Linked DNA regions of Homo sapiens. The protein of the gene in region 3 purifies or fractionates together with the protein of the main gene of each other region. This does not show direct contact. Each region holds a gene or a part of one and is shown on either strand. Other genes may lie near its edges. The genes, in order: PYGB, PLXNB2, CDHR3, EXOG and CLSTN1.

The links.
Region 1: the proteins of CDHR3 (region 3) and PYGB purify together in Homo sapiens (affinity purification with mass spectrometry; one large-scale study listed by BioGRID and IntAct). This does not show direct contact.
Region 2: the proteins of CDHR3 (region 3) and PLXNB2 purify together in Homo sapiens (affinity purification with mass spectrometry; one large-scale study listed by BioGRID and IntAct). This does not show direct contact.
Region 4: the proteins of CDHR3 (region 3) and EXOG purify together in Homo sapiens (affinity purification with mass spectrometry; one large-scale study listed by BioGRID and IntAct). This does not show direct contact.
Region 5: the proteins of CDHR3 (region 3) and CLSTN1 purify together in Homo sapiens (affinity purification with mass spectrometry; one large-scale study listed by BioGRID and IntAct). This does not show direct contact.

The regions. Positions count from the first base shown.
Region 1 is NC_000020.11:25,254,571-25,258,085, reverse strand, and holds part of PYGB (glycogen phosphorylase, brain form), read right to left. Parts: intron 1-3,515. UniProt on the Homo sapiens protein: Glycogen phosphorylase that regulates glycogen mobilization. Phosphorylase is an important allosteric enzyme in carbohydrate metabolism. Enzymes from different sources differ in their regulatory mechanisms and in their natural substrates.
Region 2 is NC_000022.11:50,283,634-50,287,148, forward strand, and holds part of PLXNB2 (plexin-B2 isoform 3 precursor), read right to left. Parts: coding exon 3,478-3,515; intron 2,655-3,477; coding exon 2,540-2,654; intron 2,466-2,539; coding exon 2,357-2,465; intron 2,269-2,356; coding exon 2,167-2,268; intron 1,281-2,166; coding exon of another isoform or gene 1,212-1,280; intron 1,033-1,211; coding exon 940-1,032; intron 581-939; coding exon 499-580; intron 358-498; coding exon 200-357; intron 118-199; coding exon 1-117.
Region 3 is NC_000007.14:106,032,764-106,036,278, reverse strand, and holds part of CDHR3 (cadherin-related family member 3 isoform 1 precursor), read right to left. Parts: 3' UTR 1-3,515. UniProt on the Homo sapiens protein: Cadherins are calcium-dependent cell adhesion proteins.
Region 4 is NC_000003.12:38,495,020-38,499,144, reverse strand, and holds the start of EXOG (nuclease EXOG, mitochondrial isoform 1 precursor), read right to left. Parts: upstream 2,806-4,125; 5' UTR 2,778-2,805; coding exon 2,615-2,777; exon of another isoform or gene 1,517-2,614; coding exon 1,367-1,516; intron 379-1,366; exon of another isoform or gene 1-378. UniProt on the Homo sapiens protein: Endo/exonuclease with nicking activity towards supercoiled DNA, a preference for single-stranded DNA and 5'-3' exonuclease activity.
Region 5 is NC_000001.11:9,729,957-9,733,471, forward strand, and holds part of CLSTN1 (calsyntenin-1 isoform 1 precursor), read right to left. Parts: coding exon 3,445-3,515; intron 1,941-3,444; coding exon 1,805-1,940; intron 1,435-1,804; coding exon 1,250-1,434; intron 750-1,249; coding exon 552-749; 3' UTR 1-551. UniProt on the Homo sapiens protein: Postsynaptic adhesion molecule that binds to presynaptic neurexins to mediate both excitatory and inhibitory synapse formation.

The DNA.
Region 1 (3,515 bases), on a different chromosome or scaffold from region 3:
ATAGGCTTCTACATTACTGTATAAATTCCAAAGTCCTTTACGTCACAGGAATTACAGCAGCATAATTAATGAGTCCTCATAGCCGCTATAAGTACAACTACTGCTGCTGTCACTCACAGTCAGGCCTCTTGTGGACTTTCATCATGCTGGATTTTATTTACACTACATTTGAACGAACTTAATATTCTATGGGGTTTCCATAGCACCTGCCTCCCCCCTCTGGCAGAGGAAGCCACAGGCACTGTCCAGGCAGGGTTTATTAACCAGTGCGAAATCATACTGAGCCCAACTAGACCCTGGCTATCTGAGAAAATACTGTGGGTCAAGTATTAACAAGAGGTTTTATAAAAAGCTGACAGGCCAGGAACATGACCAGAATGTTTTTACTTTGCCTTTAACTAAAAATGTATATTTTTTTTTAAGAGATGACGGTCTCACTATGTTGCCCAGGCTGGCTGCAAACTCCTGGCCTCAAGTGATCCTCGCGTCTCAGCCTCCCAAGCAGCTGGCACTACAGGTGCATGCCACCACACCTGGCTAAAATGTGGATTTTTAGGTTGTAGTTTGCTCTCTCTGCAAAAGTTCCTAACTTCTACTTAGAACTTTTCTACTGTGGGGAAAAAGTTTACCAGTTATGTCCCAAGAGCTTGATTATCTCTGTTTGTAAGGGACAGGACTGACACGGGAAGTGCTGGGCCTAGACTCGAAGCCTGTGCGTCTCCAATTGTCCAGGTTGCATGCAGACATCGAGGGTTCTGCAGCCTCCTGCTGAAGCACAGCCCCCAAGGCACTGCCCAGGGCCTGCCGGGCCACAGGCTCTGTCCTTGGGGACTGCAATGTGTTTTGCTGCTTTGAGGTTTTTCTGCAACTTGTTTCAATTTAAGAACTTTCATCATTTGCTGAGATGTGTCTATTTTGCTTTTACCTTAATATGGTTCAGAGTGAAAACCATGAAACTGAAAAGAGGCTTGCTGGAGGAGCTGGCCAAGAAAATGCAGACTTGAATGGTACAGGCTGGGGTCTCATCCCAGCTCCCTGCCCTGGCTAGCTGGGTGACCTGGGCAAGTCACTCAGCCTCTGAGAGGACCACATTCACCTGTGGGCTCGCACAGGGCTAGGCTAGGACTCAGGCAAGGCTGGTTCCCCTCACCATACCAGACTTTTCAAGGAGAAATGCAAAGCCTAGAAAGTTGCCAAGTGGCAGTTCTGAAAAAAACCATGTAAAGGCATAGGCTTTGTCCAAGCAACAGCCTAGGGACCTAGCTCTTCCATGACCCCAAATCCTGCTGCTGCAGGACAGCCTCTTTCCACTCACTCCCCTCTGGCTCCTCTTGTGCAACCATGAACAGGGCTTCCCTGCTCAGGGAGCGCTGGTTGGAGAACTGGACTCACCTGCTTCAGCCTGAAAATGCCAACACGATCCCTTAACCTCCCTGCTCAGCAGCTCTGCTCTAAGGAGGCCCTGCCGCCTGGGATTGAACTGGGCCATTGATCTTTCTACCATGGTCCCTTCTTGCAATATGACATAACAAGTGTTAAGTAGCCTAAAGCCAGCCTGTTTTTTGTTTTTGTTTTTGTTTTTTTTTTTTTGAGACAGAGTTTCGCTCTGTTGCCCAGGCTGGAATGCAATGGTGCAATCTTGGCTCACTGCAACCTCCACCTCCTGGGTTCAAGCCAGGCCCTCCACTTTTTTTTTTTTAACAGAGTTTATCACATGCAAAGCCTACACAACCAGGCAAATAATAGAAAAACATAAAGCTCAAAAATAGATGAAAATATGATCAACACGAACAGTACACCAAATACCAATCACCTAAAGACACCTTAGGAGTTAACAGACTCTGAAAAGAGAGTGTAACACCAACTGGCAGAGCCTCATTTTGTTCTTTACAGACAGAGATTCACAGAATTGGGCCTGTGGAGACCACCAATTTTTTCTCCCTTTTCTGAAGGGATTTTTAACTAGAGTCTTCATTTAACGTTAGTGTCTTAATACTCTGGTGGAAAAAGAAAGAACTTTCCCAACATTCAGGGAAACAAAAGAAAGAGCTGGAGCCAGGTGTGATGGCTCATGCCTATAATCCCAGCACTTTGGGAGGCTGAGGCAGGTATATCACTTGAGGTCAGGAGCTCAAGACCAGCCTGGCCAACATGATGAAACCCCGTCTCTACTAAAAATACAAAACTAGCTGGGCGTGGTGGTGCACACCTGTAATCCCACCTATTCGGAAGGCTGAGGCAGGAGAATCGCCTGAACCCGGGAGGCGGAGGTTGCAGTGAGTAGAGATCGCGCCACTGCACTCCAGCCTGGGCAACAAGAGCAAAACTCCACCTCAAAAAAAAAAAAAAGAGTTGGGCGGCTGCTTTCACCAAGATGAAGAGCCTCATTCTACAGGCAGATCTGGTCTGAAACCGGTCCCCTCCTGTCCCCAGGAAAGCACAGCAACTCTCCTTTTGTGTATTCGATTCTGTCGGTGCCAGCATGCCTCAGACCAGCCGCCCTCTACTGGTTCCTACATGGGCACAGAGTGACTCACAGGGCAGAGTGTCCCTCCCTGCCACCCAGGCACTATGGACAGAGCTGGCCCTGATAAGACACAGGAACACAGGCCACTGAGCCAGCCAGAGGCCAGTGGGCACCACGTTCCACCAGCCAGGCCTTGGAGCGGGGGCTCCCAGCCCCTCCAGACACAAAGGGGCCACCTCCCTGGGCTGGACCTGCTGGCTCCTGCTGGTGAGCTGAGCAGTCTCAGATACCATCCAGGGGAACCGAGGTCCTGTGGGAGGAGAGATGTTGAGGGGCCTCCCACCTGCCAGACGCTGAGGTTGGTCTTTGGTTTCCTTGACAGTGTCACAGTGTCCACTCCACTGTGTCTGAGGGGGCTTCTGGGGAGTTGCTCACAGAGCAATCTGATAATCCACTACTGTATCTGCTGTAAGGATGTGAGGATTAGCTAGCACATCTCTCAAGCTCCCAGCCTGTGATGTCACACGGTACTTTCTTAATGAATTAACTGCCAGGGAAACTTGGCTTCCCATGAACAGTGGGCAGGCTTCTCAACGTGGATCGTGGATTTCCTTCTCACTCCAGTACCTACGACTCAAACACAGGTCTGTTTGCTCAATTTTGAAAATGTCAAATGTAAAAGAATTATAGAACTTTAGAACTTATGGGGATCTTAAGAGATCACTTGGTTCTGTAGTAAACAAATTCCTTCTACACTCCATGACACACATTGCCACAAGTCACTGTCTCCCGCCTTCTATGCAATTAAGCTCCACAAAAAGTCTATTCAGTACTAATCCAGAGCCAGAAAGCGATGGGAGCCTTCTCCTTATCACTGACAGAGCCTAATCAACTTACACTAAGTGATCTGGACCGTGTCAAACTATATTTATACCTAGTGAGCTACCAGTCATCGTTTTTAAACACTACTTTAATCTTTCATTTTAACTGTTTGTAGGCCGAGAAATGCCACTTACCTATACCTAAAATTACATGTCATTCCTACTCA
Region 2 (3,515 bases), on a different chromosome or scaffold from region 3:
GGAGCAGTTCCGGCCGGCCACAGAGATCCTCTGGATGTCCCCTGCTTGGACGCCCAAATTGGACCCCAGGATGGTGATGCGGATGCCCCCACCCAGGGGGCCCGTCTCAGGCTGGATCTGAAACCACAGAGCCGGGTGAGCAGGGAGGGGCTCATGCCAGGGACGAGGGAAGGTGTAGGCCAGGCTTCGAGGGGCTCACCCTGGTGATGACGGGCGGCGGGCACTCGGAGGTGGTGTTGCACAGGGCCTCATACACGCACCTGCTCTGGCCCCCGCACCACGCACACCTGTAGTCGGGGTTAGCGGCCCGGCACAGGCTGCAGTCGCTGCGGCCAAAGGAGCAGTTGTAGAGGGTCACTGCGGGGAGAGCTGCCGTCAGTGGTCACCCCGTGCCTGCCCGCCCCCGACCTGCTCCCCACTGCGCCCACCTGTCCCCCCACCCACCGCCTTGTGCCCACCCGTCCCCTGCCCGCCCCCCACTGCGCCCGTGGCCCCCACCATGGAGCTTGCTGTCGATATTCTTGCCGTAAGACTTGACGTAGAGGTGCAGGGGCAGCGTCTCGTTGGCATCGTGGGACAGCTGGGGGACACGCAGGGGCACACTGCACTTCCTGCCCCCACAGAGGGGCGTGGGGCGGGGGTCACAAGGGCAGCCTCCCTGTGGCCACCGGGTCCCTTCCCAGCCAAGGGCAGCAGGGGAGGCCTTCAGGTGTCGGAAGTTCGGGAACCCCATGGACGCTGCTCTGTGCCACTCTGTCCCCAGGGAGGCAGAGGGCAGAGGGGGCTTCCCCAGCAGCACAGGGCATGGCGAGCCCCTGGCTGGGCTCTGGTCCCTGGGGTCTCCCTGCTGCCCCTCCCCTCACAGTCCTGAAGGTGACCCCCCACCCCACCCGGGGCCCTGGGGTCCAGCAGCCGAGCCGGCCTGCCCTGGAGCCGTACCTTTGGGGTCCGAAAGGCGAAGGTCCCAGATTCCTGCATGGTCACCGGCTCCATGAACTTGAGCAAGTCACTGCCCACGTGCAGGGAGGAACCCTGCAGACCATGCCGTCAGGACCCTGGACAGGCGGCTGTGGCACCCTGGCCCTCCTCCCAGAACCCCTGCAGCCCCTCCTCTGTGCCTACAGTGTGGGAGCCCTCTCCTCACCCCACACATGCCCGCCCCTCAGATTACCATGCCAGCTGACCCCTCGGCCACTCCTGAGCCCAAACACCTGTGTCTGCAGAAGCCTCTGAACGTCCTCTGTGGGTTTCCCACGGCCACCTCCACCACTCATCCACACCTGAGAACATCGCCCGGCCCACCTGACATCGTGGCCCCCACAGCTCCCTCCTCAGGAGGTGGCACTGGCCCCTCAATCTCCACACGCCTGCCTCCTCCACTGCCTCTCTTCAGGCCCATCCAAAGGCCCCCGAGTGCTGCCTCCTGGCCTCTGTCCCCGATAAATCCTGTGCCCTCTACCTCATGTGGGGGCCCCGAGTCGGGGGGCACGGGTGGAGCTCAGGCTTCCCACACACCCATCAGCACTGGCCGGCACCCCTCCCTCCGTACCTTAGCCTGCCTGTCACCAACCGGCACCCCCTCCCTCCGCACCTGAGCCTGCCTGTCACCGGCCGGCACCCCTCCCTCCGCACCTGAGCCTGCCTGTCACCAACCGGCACCCCCTCCCTCCGCACCTGAGCCTGCCTGTCACCGGCCGGCACCCCTCCCTCCGCACCTGAGCCTGCCTGTCACCGGCCGGCACCCCTCCCTCCGCACCTGAGCCTGCCTGTCACCGGCCGGCACCCCCTCCCTCCGCACCTGAGCCTGCCTGTCACCAACCGGCACCCCCTCCCTCCGTACCTGAGCCTGCCTGTCACCGGCCGGCACCCCTCCCTCCGCACCTGAGCCTGCCTGTCACCGGCCGGCACCCCTCCCTCCGCACCTGAGCCTGCCTGTCACAGCCGGCACCCCTCCCTCCGCACCTGAGCCTGCCTGTCACCGGCCGGCACCCCTCCCTCCGCACCTGAGCCTGCCTGTCACAGCCGGCACCCCTCCCTCCGCACCTGAGCCTGCCTGTCACCGGCCGGCACCCCTCCCTCCGTACCTGAGCCTGCCTGTCACCGGCCGGCACCCCTCCCTCCGCACCTGAGCCTGCCTGTCACCAGCCGGCACCCCTCCCTCCGCACCTTCACGGTGTCCAGGTTCTTGCCCTGGAAGTTCACATCTGTCTCGTGGTTCATGGGGATCACCAGGGGGCTGGGTCCCAGGAACTGGGGACAGCTGTCCTCCTGGGAGAGTAAGGCTGGTCAGGTGCTGCCTGGGCACAGCGGAGCAGCCATGCCCTGAACAGTCCCCTGAGGCCCCGAGGCCCCTCACCATGTGGGCACGGACGATGCCGTCCTCAGGGTTGGGCGAAGCCTCCCGGCACTCGTGGTAGCGCAGGTCCCACTGGCAGGTCCAGCGGTTGCTCACGCAGGAGATGCACCTGCATCCAGAGGGGATCGTGAGCAGGGCTGGGGTGGACGGGCAGGGTGGGGTCGATGGGCACAAGACACTCACGGCAGGTTCTCCTCCAGGCTCATGGCCTGGCGGCAGTCGTAGAAGGGGTACTGGTAGGACGTGAGGAAGATGTTGCCTCGTCTAAGGAGGAGCTGGATGGTCACGGCCACGTGGTCTGCAGACAGCAGAGGGGGAGGTGTCAAGGTGGCGGCCGCAGGGCCGAGGGCCAGGCTGGGCCTCCCCTGGGGCTGACTCCTGGGGCCAAGGTGGAGACCCCTGGTCTTCAGGGGGCCCTGCCAGGACGCCCCGCATTCATGTTGGGCGGGGCCTGCCACCTGCTATCAGATCTCGGGTGGGGCTGCCAGGACGCCCGTTCACGCTGGGCTGGACCTGCCACCTGCTATCAGATCTTGGTTCGGGTGTCGGGCGCAGCACCGGGCTTGCCTTTCTCCCCCGGGTCCAGGTTGCTTTCATACCCTCTGTTCCCGCAGGCACTGAGGGCAGCGGCTCCTTGGAGTCTGAGTGGGACCTGCCAGGTCCCTGCCCACGTCACTGCGTGGCCCCACTGCCCCCAAAACTCAGGGGACATGGGCGCGACGCCTGCCCTGGCCCACATGCGAGGCCCTGCAGCCTCTGGGAACGGCCCTGCTCTCTGAAGCTGGACATGGCAGGAAGGGGTGAGGGGCGTCTGCCGAGACGACGGGGCCTGGCGCCTGGCACCCACATGCCGCTCCGGACGTGATGAGGGAGCAGGCTGAAGACAAGTCACCTTTGCTACAGGCCTGGGGGGCGTGGCTGCGGACAGCCCAAGAAGCCAGAACCTCCCCAACAGGCACAGCAACCCCACCACAGGCTTCATTCAGGCTGGGCCCCCGGAGCAGCCGCGGAGTGTGCCTGTGCAGAGCCTGCACCCAGGGGCCAGCAGAGGCGAGAGCCCGTGTGCACAGGGCCCCGTGCGACCGAGAAGGGCCACCCGGGGGCTCGGGAAGGGGCCTCACCCTGGCCTGGCGGTGTGACGGGGATGCTGCTTGGGGAG
Region 3 (3,515 bases):
AAAAAGGCAAACAATGAGAACCCCAGATGTGAAAGGGGGCTCTGGGGAGCAGAAGTGTCATTTCCCAGTTCTGCTTGTGAGCCACCCGTGCTTGCTACACAGGCTGAGTTTCAGACCCTGCTTTCTAATGAGCACAACAAAAAGCTCCAATGTCACAATCTACTATGCAGTTTCAAAGTCTTCGACAATTATAATTGTTACGTGGTCTAATTCCTGAACGTATTTACCCCAGTTTTATAATGAATCAGAATGAGAAAAGTAAACATTGGCTATAATCAACTCATACCTGTTTAAGGCCTTGAGAGGGAGATGGGAGAAAACTTTCACCAAATCCACGACGGTTGCTGTCTTCATTTTATTCAGATAATTTTGTTCCCCCCAAAACCTGGTCAACGCTGGGAAATTGGCTGTCTGTAACCAATCAGACTGATTGCCAGCCGAGTCTTCGTTGCAACGTTGTAACTTCACCTTAGCCTCTGATTGGTTGCTTTTTGCAACCAATCAGATGTTTGCACAGGAGCGTGACCTTTGTAACTCCACTTCAGTCTCTGATTGGTTGCTTCCTGCAACCAATCAGACCAATTGTGGTCCACTACTTCATTTCCATGAGGTGAGCATGAAGTGGCCAAGGGGAAACCTCCAAGGGGTATTTGGACTGAGAAGACTGTATCTGGGCCCTTGAGTCACTTGCTCAGGCCCGTTCCCACACTGTGGAGTGTACTTTGGTTTTCAATAAATCCCTGCTTTCATTCTTTCGTTGCCTCATTCTTTCTCTGCTTTGCTGGGCATTTTGTTCCATTCTTTGTTCAAAACTCCAAGAACTTGGACAACTTGCAGTCAAGACCCTCCACCGGTGACACTTTGACTTCTGGATTTCCCCGAACCAAATAGCCGGATATACAAAAGAAACGGGGCAGCAGGTGTTCTCTCCTCCTGGCGCACTCTTGCCCCTATTTCTTGAGTTTCTCGAGGCTTGCCTTGCGACTAGGAAGACACTCAGCTCTTCCTGCCTATCACCAGAGAAGACACTGAGCTCTTCAGAGAGGCCCCAGGCTTCAGGAAGTCCCTCTTGGTGCCTGACTTAAATCTCTTCTCTGGCCATTAAGCACAATTCCCTCTTGCCCTGTCATCACTGGAGAAGAAAGACCAGCTGCTCACCACTCTCTCCTTTTAATTATTCTTTTTTTTTTTTTTTTCTTGACACAGAGTTTTGCCCTTGTCACCCAGGCTGGAGTGCAGTGGCGCAATCTCAGCCCACTGCAACTTCTGCCTCCTGGGTTCAAGCGATTCTCTTGCCTCAGCCTCCTGAGTAGCTGGGATTACAGGTGCCTGCTAACACGTCCAGCTAATTTTTCTATTTTTTAGTAGAGACAGGGTTTCACCATGTTGGCCAGGCTGGTCTCAAACTCCTGACCTCAGGTGATCCACCTGCCTCAGCCTCCCAGAGTGCTGGGATTACAGGCATGAGCCACCTCACCCGGCCCTTTTAATCATTCTTAATGGGCTTATAAGCAGTTATTAAGTCCCCCTTCAGCCTTCTCAGAACCTCATTTTACTTGCATTGAAGCTGAGAGCTTCCAAGGAAAGCATTTGACTCCGGGCCCCACAGATTTGCAATGCCTTAAATGGGCAATCAGCCACTTCACTCACTTTAACCTGCATAAATGAACAGTTCTGCCTTCTTTTGCAAAGTTTAAATCCATTCAAGGGAGTTCCCTGGCAACCAACCCTTATTAATAAATCACGCTCAATCTAGGCCAGGACAGGCATTTTGCAAATGCTTCTTTTGCTTGAGAAGTGACACTGGCACTAGGCACACAGTAAACAAGCTGCTGCTCTCTCTGAAGCTCTACATTTGCTGGATCCAGTCTGTCTCCCACAGGACCTTGTGGACCTGGTAGGCTCTCACCTGACTCCCCAGTTGGGAAGGGAGTGCTTCCCTAATGAACACTCACCTGGACCTTTCTTAGGGTTACTGGACTAGGGTCGCAGCAGCTGGGCAGCAGGGCATAGAGCTCGAGTGAAGCTTGCTCAGGCTCTGCTAGGCACACATTGGAAAGTTACATTTCCTATTCCATCATAATACCATTTATTCCCAGTTCATTGCTCATGCCTACAGGTGGAAGTCTGAGTTTTATGTCTAGATGGGGCTTCCAGTATGTCCCCACTCAGAGTCCTGCAGTTCCTTCCAATCATAGGAAGTGGGAAGGAGCAAGGCAGGTAGGTTGTAAGGCTGATGGTGTTTCAGCTTTGAGGAAAAAGTGATTTCACTTCAATAGTAATTTTAACCAGAATGGCTAAAGTTAAAAGGATTGACAATCCCAAGTGTTGGCAAGGATAGAGAGCAATTGCAACTCTCAGTGTTTGCTGCTGGAATGTGAATCAGAGCCACCACTTTGGAACTCTTTGGCAGATCCAGCAATTGCTCCAGCAATCCCACTCTTAGATATATGAGCAAAAAAGTGAGTGTTTATGTTCACCAAAAGACATGTACAAGAAAGTTCATAGTGTTGTAATTCACTTTTATTTTTTTTTTCTGAGATGGAGTCTTGCTTTGTCACCCAGGCTAGAGTGCAGTGGCACAATCTCAACTCACTGTAACCTCCACCTCTCAGGTTTAAGCAGTTCTCCCTACCTCAGCCTCCCAAGTAGCTGGGATTACATGTGCCCACCACCACACCAAGCTAATTTTTGTATTTTTTAGTAGAGACAGGGTTTTGCCATCTAGGCCAGGCTGATCTTGAACTCCTGACCTTAGGTGATCTGCCCACCTTGGCAAAGTGCTGGCATTACAGGCATGAGCCATCATGCCCTGCCTGTAGTTCACTTTTAAGTATATTTTTTAAAAGTAAAAAATCTGAAGCAGCTGCCACCCAAGTGTAGAATAGATAAATTGTGATATAATCATAGAATGAAACCAGACATAACCATGAAGAGAACTGAACTACTGCTAGACAGGACAACGTGGATGAATCTCACATGCAGGATGCTGATCCGGACACCACAAGAAAAAACAAAAGAAGGTGCCTACTGAGTTTTCTTCTTTCCAGATGACCAACTCTTAACTTACTCATCTGTTTTTTTCACTGTTCTGCTTCTTTTGAAGAAGATTTGAGGTGACTTACAAAGGTGTATGGCATATTTATAACTGAAGAAATCTGGGTGATGTTAAAACGAGGGCAGGAAAATAAGGTGGAAACCAGATGTAAGGATAGTCTTCACTATTTATGTCAGGAATTCCTACAAACTTTCTATGGTGAACAGAATAGAGCTTCCTAGCAGTCAATGCAAAGAAGAAACACAACAATTCCACACCCCAAAGTTAACAGTCTTGCTTATCAGAAGCACAGGTAGTTCTGAAATCTGATAGAAAATGTTCCTGTATCATTTCAGAACACGCAACTATGTGATCAAACCCCTTTCTATTTGTTTAAAAATTTGTCAAACATCCCATGTTTGACCCTGGATGTCTGAATCCCCTCAGCCCACATTTTCCCCCCTACACCATGCCCACA
Region 4 (4,125 bases), on a different chromosome or scaffold from region 3:
ACTTTTACAAATAAATTCAAAAGAGAATACCCCAACTGAAATAGGTAAAGAATAACTTACCAAAAAAGACTAATTCACAGCATGTTAACCCTCATTGATAATCAATAAACACAAGTAAAATGAGCATTAAATTGGTAAAGCTCAGTAATGCTCACCATAGGTGAAGGTTGAGAGAGAGAAGAAACAATGATGCTAGGAGTGTAAACTTGAAGAATCTACCTAGAAACCAATTTGACATTAATTATCAAGATCTGGCAATTCTACAGGACCCTATCAAGACATAAGGACACATGAATAAACTGACACACCTGCTTACTTCTCCAGCATCATTTCACATCACCTTCCCCCTCATTCATCTACTGGCACTCTTTTAGTTCCCTAAAAGAACAAAACTCCTGTCCACATTGGGGGCCTCCGAAGATGCAAATGTTCCTTTCTTCCTAGAATGCTCTTCTCCATATCCCATGGCACATTCAACCCCTTGCCTAAGTAATTTCCGTTCACTCTTCAGTCCACTTTTCCAGAGAAGCCTTACTAATCAAAATCAGGTTCTTGTGTTATAATCTCTCATCACACTTTTTTTTTTTTTTGAGACACATTCTCCCTCTGTTGCCTAAGCTGGAGTGTGGTGCTGCGATCTTGGCTCACTGCAACCCCCACCTCCTGGGCTCAAGAGATCCTCCCATCTCAGTCCCCCAAGTAGCTGGAACCACAGAGGTGCACCACCACGCCCAGCTAATTTTTGTATTTTTTGTAGAAACGCGGTTTTGCCATGTTGGCCAGGCTCATCTCAAACTCCTGAGCTCAAACGCCTCAGCCTCCCAAAGTACTGGGATTACAGGTGTGAGCCACCACGCCCAGCCTCTCATCAAACTTTTTACTGTTCCTTAATTATACTACACTAACTTGCAATCACCTCCTTTGGAAAAATTATTGTAATTATACATCTAAAATTATTTGTTTGATGGGTCAACCCACTCTCCCAACTCAAAGTGTCACTGGGGTAGAGATCCTCTACTCTGGTCACACATAGGTCCCCAAGGGTTACCACAGTGCCAGACACATAGCAGGCACATAAATATTTGTTAAGGTAAAACTGAATGGTGCTCATTGCTGTAATATTTATGACAGAGCCTCCCAACTAGTGTGTCAAGATATGGGTATTTTCAGCCCTGAGACAGCTGGAAAGGGTCTGGCTTTCTGGCTGCCAGGCAGGGTTGATTTAACCAGTAAGTTATATAAATATAATTTTCTACATGTGCTATGATATGAAAAAGGTTGAGAATATTAATAATCATCCCTGTTTTAAATTTGGAGACATCTTTCATAAATACTGTTACTTCAGTTTTTTTATCCAACCACCTACCCATTATCTTGCTTTTGGAAATATGTTCAAGAACCCATCTAGGCACCCGCTTTGCCTGATCATAAGACAAAGCGTGATTAGTGTAACACCTTGCCTCTGTTCCAGTTAAAGGGAATCCAAATTGTTCCAAGACAGCCTTTTCTGCAGATCCTAAAAATGAAAAAAAAAAAAAAAGGGGGGGCAGAGACAAAAAAAACACACACACACAATTAGTGGCTCTTAATAATGAAAGATTATAAGGAAAAGGAGAGCGGTGTGATTTACAAAGGACTGGCTCAGAAGTCTAATCAACCAGAAAATCTCATTTTTGCAATTACTTATGAGATGAAGAAAACAGACAGTAGGCAAAGTACTGATTTGCCTATAATCAGTGAATAAAATGCAGCTACTGCATTAACTTTTGAATAAAGACTTGATCTTATTAGTCTTTCACATCAAATTTCCAAATCATCTCTGAAGCACTGATATGTGTGCTGTTGCAAGATGACAGTAAAACTGGTACTGTTTTTCCTAGTGGGAGAAACCAAGCACACATTCAGCAGTGAGTCAGTTTCGAGATAATCCTCCCCGATGCCTTCTCAAATCCTCAACCCCCCAAGGGGGTAGTTCTCTTGCTAGATGCCAAGTATCCAAAGGAGCAAGTTAAATTAGCACATCCGCAAAGTACAAGAAATGAGCTCGTGTTAATTTTTTTTTTTTTTTTGTCAAATATAAGGTACCCATTGCAACATGAGTTTTTATACACTTTGGAGGGATAGCAGGTATTCTTCAACTGAACAATGACGAAAGAAGGGCAGTTAACTCATCTACTAAAATTATGTATTAATTTATTCCTTCATTCATACTTACTGAATGCCAATTATGTACCAGGTACTGTGCTGGTTAGATGATGGAGACCAAAACAGACATAGTCTCAAGTCTTATGGAGCTAACAATCTTAGTAGAGAACACAGACATTAAAACATAGATATCGCGATGAGTAACTGGGGGGAAGAAAGTCGGGCGGCGGGGGTGGTTCTGTGCAGAAAACGAAGATGCCCGGGGGAAGGAAGGACATGAGGGAAGCTGGCGAGACGCGAGGTGGGGAAGGGAGGCCGAGCCGGGAGAATAAAGGTCAGAAACCAAGGGCCAGGCTAGGGGCCCAGCAAACGGTGAAGGCTGTCCGTCAAGGACTGCCATTCACACTCCAGGTAGGAGTCGGAGCCCGAAATCTGGGCCAGCGAAGGGAGGACGGGCCCACAGACTTACCATCCGGCTGCTTCCCTGTCAACGCTCCCTCAGCGCCCTGACTCCGGAAGAACTGCAGGGCCGCGAGCCCAGCTCCCGCAGCGCCCACTACAGCCCCAGCCACGAAGCCGCTCAGAAAACGACGGGAACCCCGGAGGCGGGAAGCGATACTCTTGATAGCCATCTTGCCCGAGGTACCGGCCTTTTACCACGGCGCATGCGCGCGCATGCCGGCCCCCGCCATCCCCCCGTCACCCCACGCCTCACCGCCCGCCAAGCTGAGGGCCTCGCACGCCCCCTGGTGACAAACCGGGATGCCTAGCGCATCCCCGCTTCATCCCTGGTCCACTGGACGGGGCGATGGATGGGGAATATGATGTCTAGAGGGCTTAGTGGTATGCTATATATAGTCATGAGAAGAAAATACCTTTAGTCTCATTTAATAGGTGAGTAAACACTTGCGCATGGTTACACTAAGGTCTCCAGAGCCGATATTCCAACTCAGGTCTATTTATTTATTTAGCGACAGGGTCTCTGTTACCCAGGCTGCAGTACAGTGGAATGATCATAGCTTACTGCGATCTCGAACTCGTGGGCTCAAGCGATCCTCCTGCCTCAGCCTCCTGAGTAGCTGGGACTACAGGCACGTGCCACATTGCCCGGCTAAATTTTTGGCGGGAGTGGGGGAGCGGTAAAGAAGGGGGTCTCCTTATGTTGCCCAGGCTGGTATCCAACTTCTGGCCTCAAGCAATCTTCCCGCCTCGGCCTCCCAAAGTGCTGTAAGTCCAGGTGTGTGTCACTGTCCCCAACCTTCTCTTTTAAATTGGAATAATAATACTTAGACCATAGCGTTCTTGTGAGGATTAAAGGAGATGACACATGTAAAATGTTTAGGGAAGTACCAGGGGCATGTCACTAAGTGCTCTATAAATGTTAGAAATGTTTGAGTCATCTCTACTCTTTGTCTTGATAGAATATAAAATCCAGATTGCTGAACGCCTGCTGGCAAAGAAAGGATAGATTTCATGGACTACCACTCACAAACAAATGAGTCTTCATTTTGCAGCATGATCTCTAGCATTCCGTGTGGACTTAGTTCTTAGCAGAAACTTCAAGTTTCCTATTTCTTAGATAACTGGTAGGAATAACTTTCATCTGATCCCACTGATGATTCACTGACCAGGAGGCCACTTCTAACAACCTACTGAAGTGTGCACATTATTTTGACAGCCTCAAATGGGAGGCTACCCCCTTGCCAGGAATACCTCTTCTGAAGGACCCTGACTGGTTAAGCTACATCAACCAGAGTCCTTCCTAGGGATTTTCGATCTAGTAGTCTCTCTGGGTAGCAAAGCTGTGACGTAAAACTCACAGGCGCAGTGGCTCATGCCTGCAATCCCAGCACTTCGGGAGGCCAAGACTGGAGGATCACCTGAGGTCAGGAATTTGAGACCAGCCTGGCCAACATGGTGAAACCCCGTCTCTACTAACAATACAAAAATCAACCAGGTGTGGTGGCGCGTGCCTGTAAT
Region 5 (3,515 bases), on a different chromosome or scaffold from region 3:
CAGTCCCGGGTTACACTAGCACAAAGGACACAAGGAATCCGATTTATTTACAAAATATTAAAAAGTCAGTTAATCATCTACACAGTACCCCCCATCCTGCCATTATTTATACATGCACTAGTTTGGAAAAAATAAAAACTTTTTTTAAAAAAAGAAAAAAATGATTACCGGGTGGGAGTGAGCATGTTTTACCCTTTGTCAACGAGCCCAGCTGGCATGGCTTTTCTGGAGTGCGAGGGGCCAGTGTCCTCTCCCCGGGGGGAGACTCCAGACACAAACGCGGGGCCTGAGGCGCTGGGAGGCCCCTGTGCGAGCCGGATGGCGGCCAGAGAGGACGTGTCAGCTCCTCGTGGGACTGAAGAGCGCGACCAGGCAGAGGGTGGGCGGGGAGCCTAGGGTCCTACACACCAAGCACAGCGACGATCGTGGCGGGGAGGGGTCTGCACACCTACTGGCCGAAATGACTTTGTACATCGTGGACCCTTGGGACTGGGAGAACGGATGGCAGCAGAGTCTTCGAAAGCAGAAACCGAGGTGGCCGGGGGCACGGGTCAGTAGCTGAGGGTGGAGTCATCCCACTCCAGCTGCTGCTGCCGGGTTGCGTTCTGGGGGTCGCCCTGCTCCCCCTCCTCCTCCTCGCTGCTCTCCGACTCGGCGCTGGTGATGTCATCCTCTTCTTCGCCGTCCTCGCTTTCCTCTTCCTCTTCCTCTTCCTCCTCCTCCTCACTGCTGTGCTGGTCCTCATAGGTCTGGCAAGGAGAAGTGACGGCCACATGAGTCCGGCCCTGCCCACAGCCCCGTCACCTGGCATTCTCCTCTCGACAGCCACAGAGGAAGGAGAACTTGCCCCAGCGTCTCCCTCCCCAGCGACAGAGCAGCCAGGACGGCACCGGAAGTTATATTAGAAGTGAAGGGAAAACAAAGCTCCAGTCAGCACCCACGGAGTCACCCACATACAAAGCAGCTTGGGACAGCACCTCAGCTGCCCCACCAGAGAACTCTCTCAGGATTACCATGACCCAAGAGCGCCAAGCCCTGGCATGGCTCTTCTCTACACTTAAGGCAGAACGGCCTTGAATAAGGTCTCTCTCAGCCTCGGTTTACCCACGAAGACACCTAAGCCCCAGGCTTGCTGAGCAGATGACGCGATGGAAAGCATGTGAACCTGAAGGAGCCGCGCCGTACCGGCTTCTCGGAGGCCCTGGCCTGTGCTGCCTCTCAGTCCTGGAGGTCGCCCGCCCACTCCTACCTCCATGGGGTTGACGGTGATGGTCAGGGCAGAGTCGTCCCAGTCCATCTCGTTCTCCTTCCCGGTGTCCTGATCCCGCATGGTCCGCCGATGTGCGGCCCGGATCCGAAATACCCCCAGGATAATCATGAACACCAGGAAGCTGACGCACACCACGATCACAACTGTCGCAGTGCTGGGGACGACTGTGGGAGAATGAGGGGGCGGGATGCGAGGTCACTCGGCCCAGAAGGCCACTGTGCCCTTGACCTCCTCGGCTGTGCCTGGTCAAAACGGGCTGGACAGCACGCTTCAGCTGAACCCACAGGCCAGGAGGAAATACCAGGAAAAGCTCGCCATGGGCCTCCAACCTGGCTCGGCCACGTCCTGCTCCATGGCTGCGGGTGACATCATCTGCCCTCTTCGAGGGCTTTAGTTTCCTTGTGTGTGATGGGGAATAATTGGGACAGGGAAAGACCGGCGGTCATGCTGAGCAGGAGGCTGTGCCCACGGTGGGGTGGGGGCAGGGCGGACGGCATGGAGCATCTCCGCTTGGTCTCCCTCCCCATGTCCTACCTGCGAACGGGTGGGGGTTGGCCAGGTTGTGGCCTGACAGGTCAACAAAGGAGCGGTGTTCCGGGTGCACGAACTGTGGCTGGGCAGCCATGTGGTTGGCGTGTTCCATGGGGTTGGCCGTGTGGATTACATTCACCTATAGCAGAGAAAGAGAGGATCGCTGGAGACAGGCATCCTGAGCCTGTCCAAGAGGTGACAGTGGAGTCCCGCAGCTGGCATGACCAGTGCCACTCAGAGTGGCTCCTGGACCGCAGCTGGGGGCAAACGGAGCTACGGGAAAAGGACAGAAAAAAAAATCAAGAGTAAGCACTTAAAAAACAAAAACAAAGAAAAAGAAACAAAAACCAAACAAAAAAGAGTAATAAGCACTTAGAAACTGCTATAACAATCTAATATTCTCACACATTCCAGAAATGTATCACTTTTCTACTTATTAGTATTTGTTGAGACTGGGTCTTGCTGTGTTGCCCGGGCTGGAGCGCAGTAGCTATTCACAAGCATGATCACGGCTCACTGCAGCCTGGAACTTCCCTGCTCAAGTAATCCTCCCACCTCAGCCTCTCAAGTAGCTGGGACTACAGGCAAGCACCACGCACCTGGCTGCAATCCATTTTTATTGCATTTTATAAAAGATTATGCCCAAAACAAGAGCAGAAAAAGAAGCCGATGGTCCTTCCCCATGGGTCGTTTGGGAAGCACTGGCGTAGACCTTTTTCCTCAAATCACAGCCGTGTGAAAGACAGCACCAATCACTGCCATGGATTTCCTTTCATATCTCTTACCCTTTGACTCAAACAAAACAGGCACCGAATTTAGCATTCTGCTCTTGAGTTCATGGTGATATTCCATTGCTAAGAGTAACTTTGGGTCAATTTTCTCCAGGCCACAGAGAGCCTGAGCGATGAAGCAGCTGCTGGATAGGTCTGTAGACGACCTCAGAGCAGGAGGAGCTACCCTCTAGCCTGTGTGGCCTGTGAGTCACCAGCGCCAGCCTCAGCAGCACTGGTCCTGCCCGTGCGGGTCCCTGCGTGAGCCCCTCTCAACCTGGGCCGAGGACTCGACTTCATTCACAGGAGGGCCAGTGACCTGGCACAGATGCAGAGAACTTTTGGTTCCCTGGATGCTGCTCTTTCTAAAACAGTGTCTTTGGCTGGGCACAGTGGCTCACGCCTGTAATCCTAGCACTTTTGGAGGCCAAGGCAAGTGGATTGCTTGAACCTGGGGGGACAAGACCAGCCTGGGCAACATAGTGAGACCTCGTCTCTAAAAATAAATAAATAAATAAAACCACATCCTCCTGTTTCTCTCATGGGAAATCTCAAGAAGCCCCAGAGGCATTAACTGCCACTTGCTCTTTGTCACCTCCCTGCAAAGTTCCTTAGGCTCCAACTCAGGCTGAGGCAGCCAGGGAAAGGGGAGCACCCCCCACCCCAGCTCACCCCAAACACAACTTGTCACTCCAACAAGCCCAGGTGTAACCTGCAGCAGGCCCCAGGCTGGAAAGGCGACCCCCTAGAATGAGCCTGTATAGCTGCCATCATGAATGCTCTGAGGTTGGCGTTTGTGAATATTAGGGCTGCAAATCAGCGCCCTCACTCACTGCTGCTATTGGCCCTGCTCAGTGGGAGCCTTGTACTCACCTCCACCTTAAATTCGTTGCTGATGTAGCGGCCATTCAGCTCTGAGCAGATGAGCTTAAACTTCCGGTCAA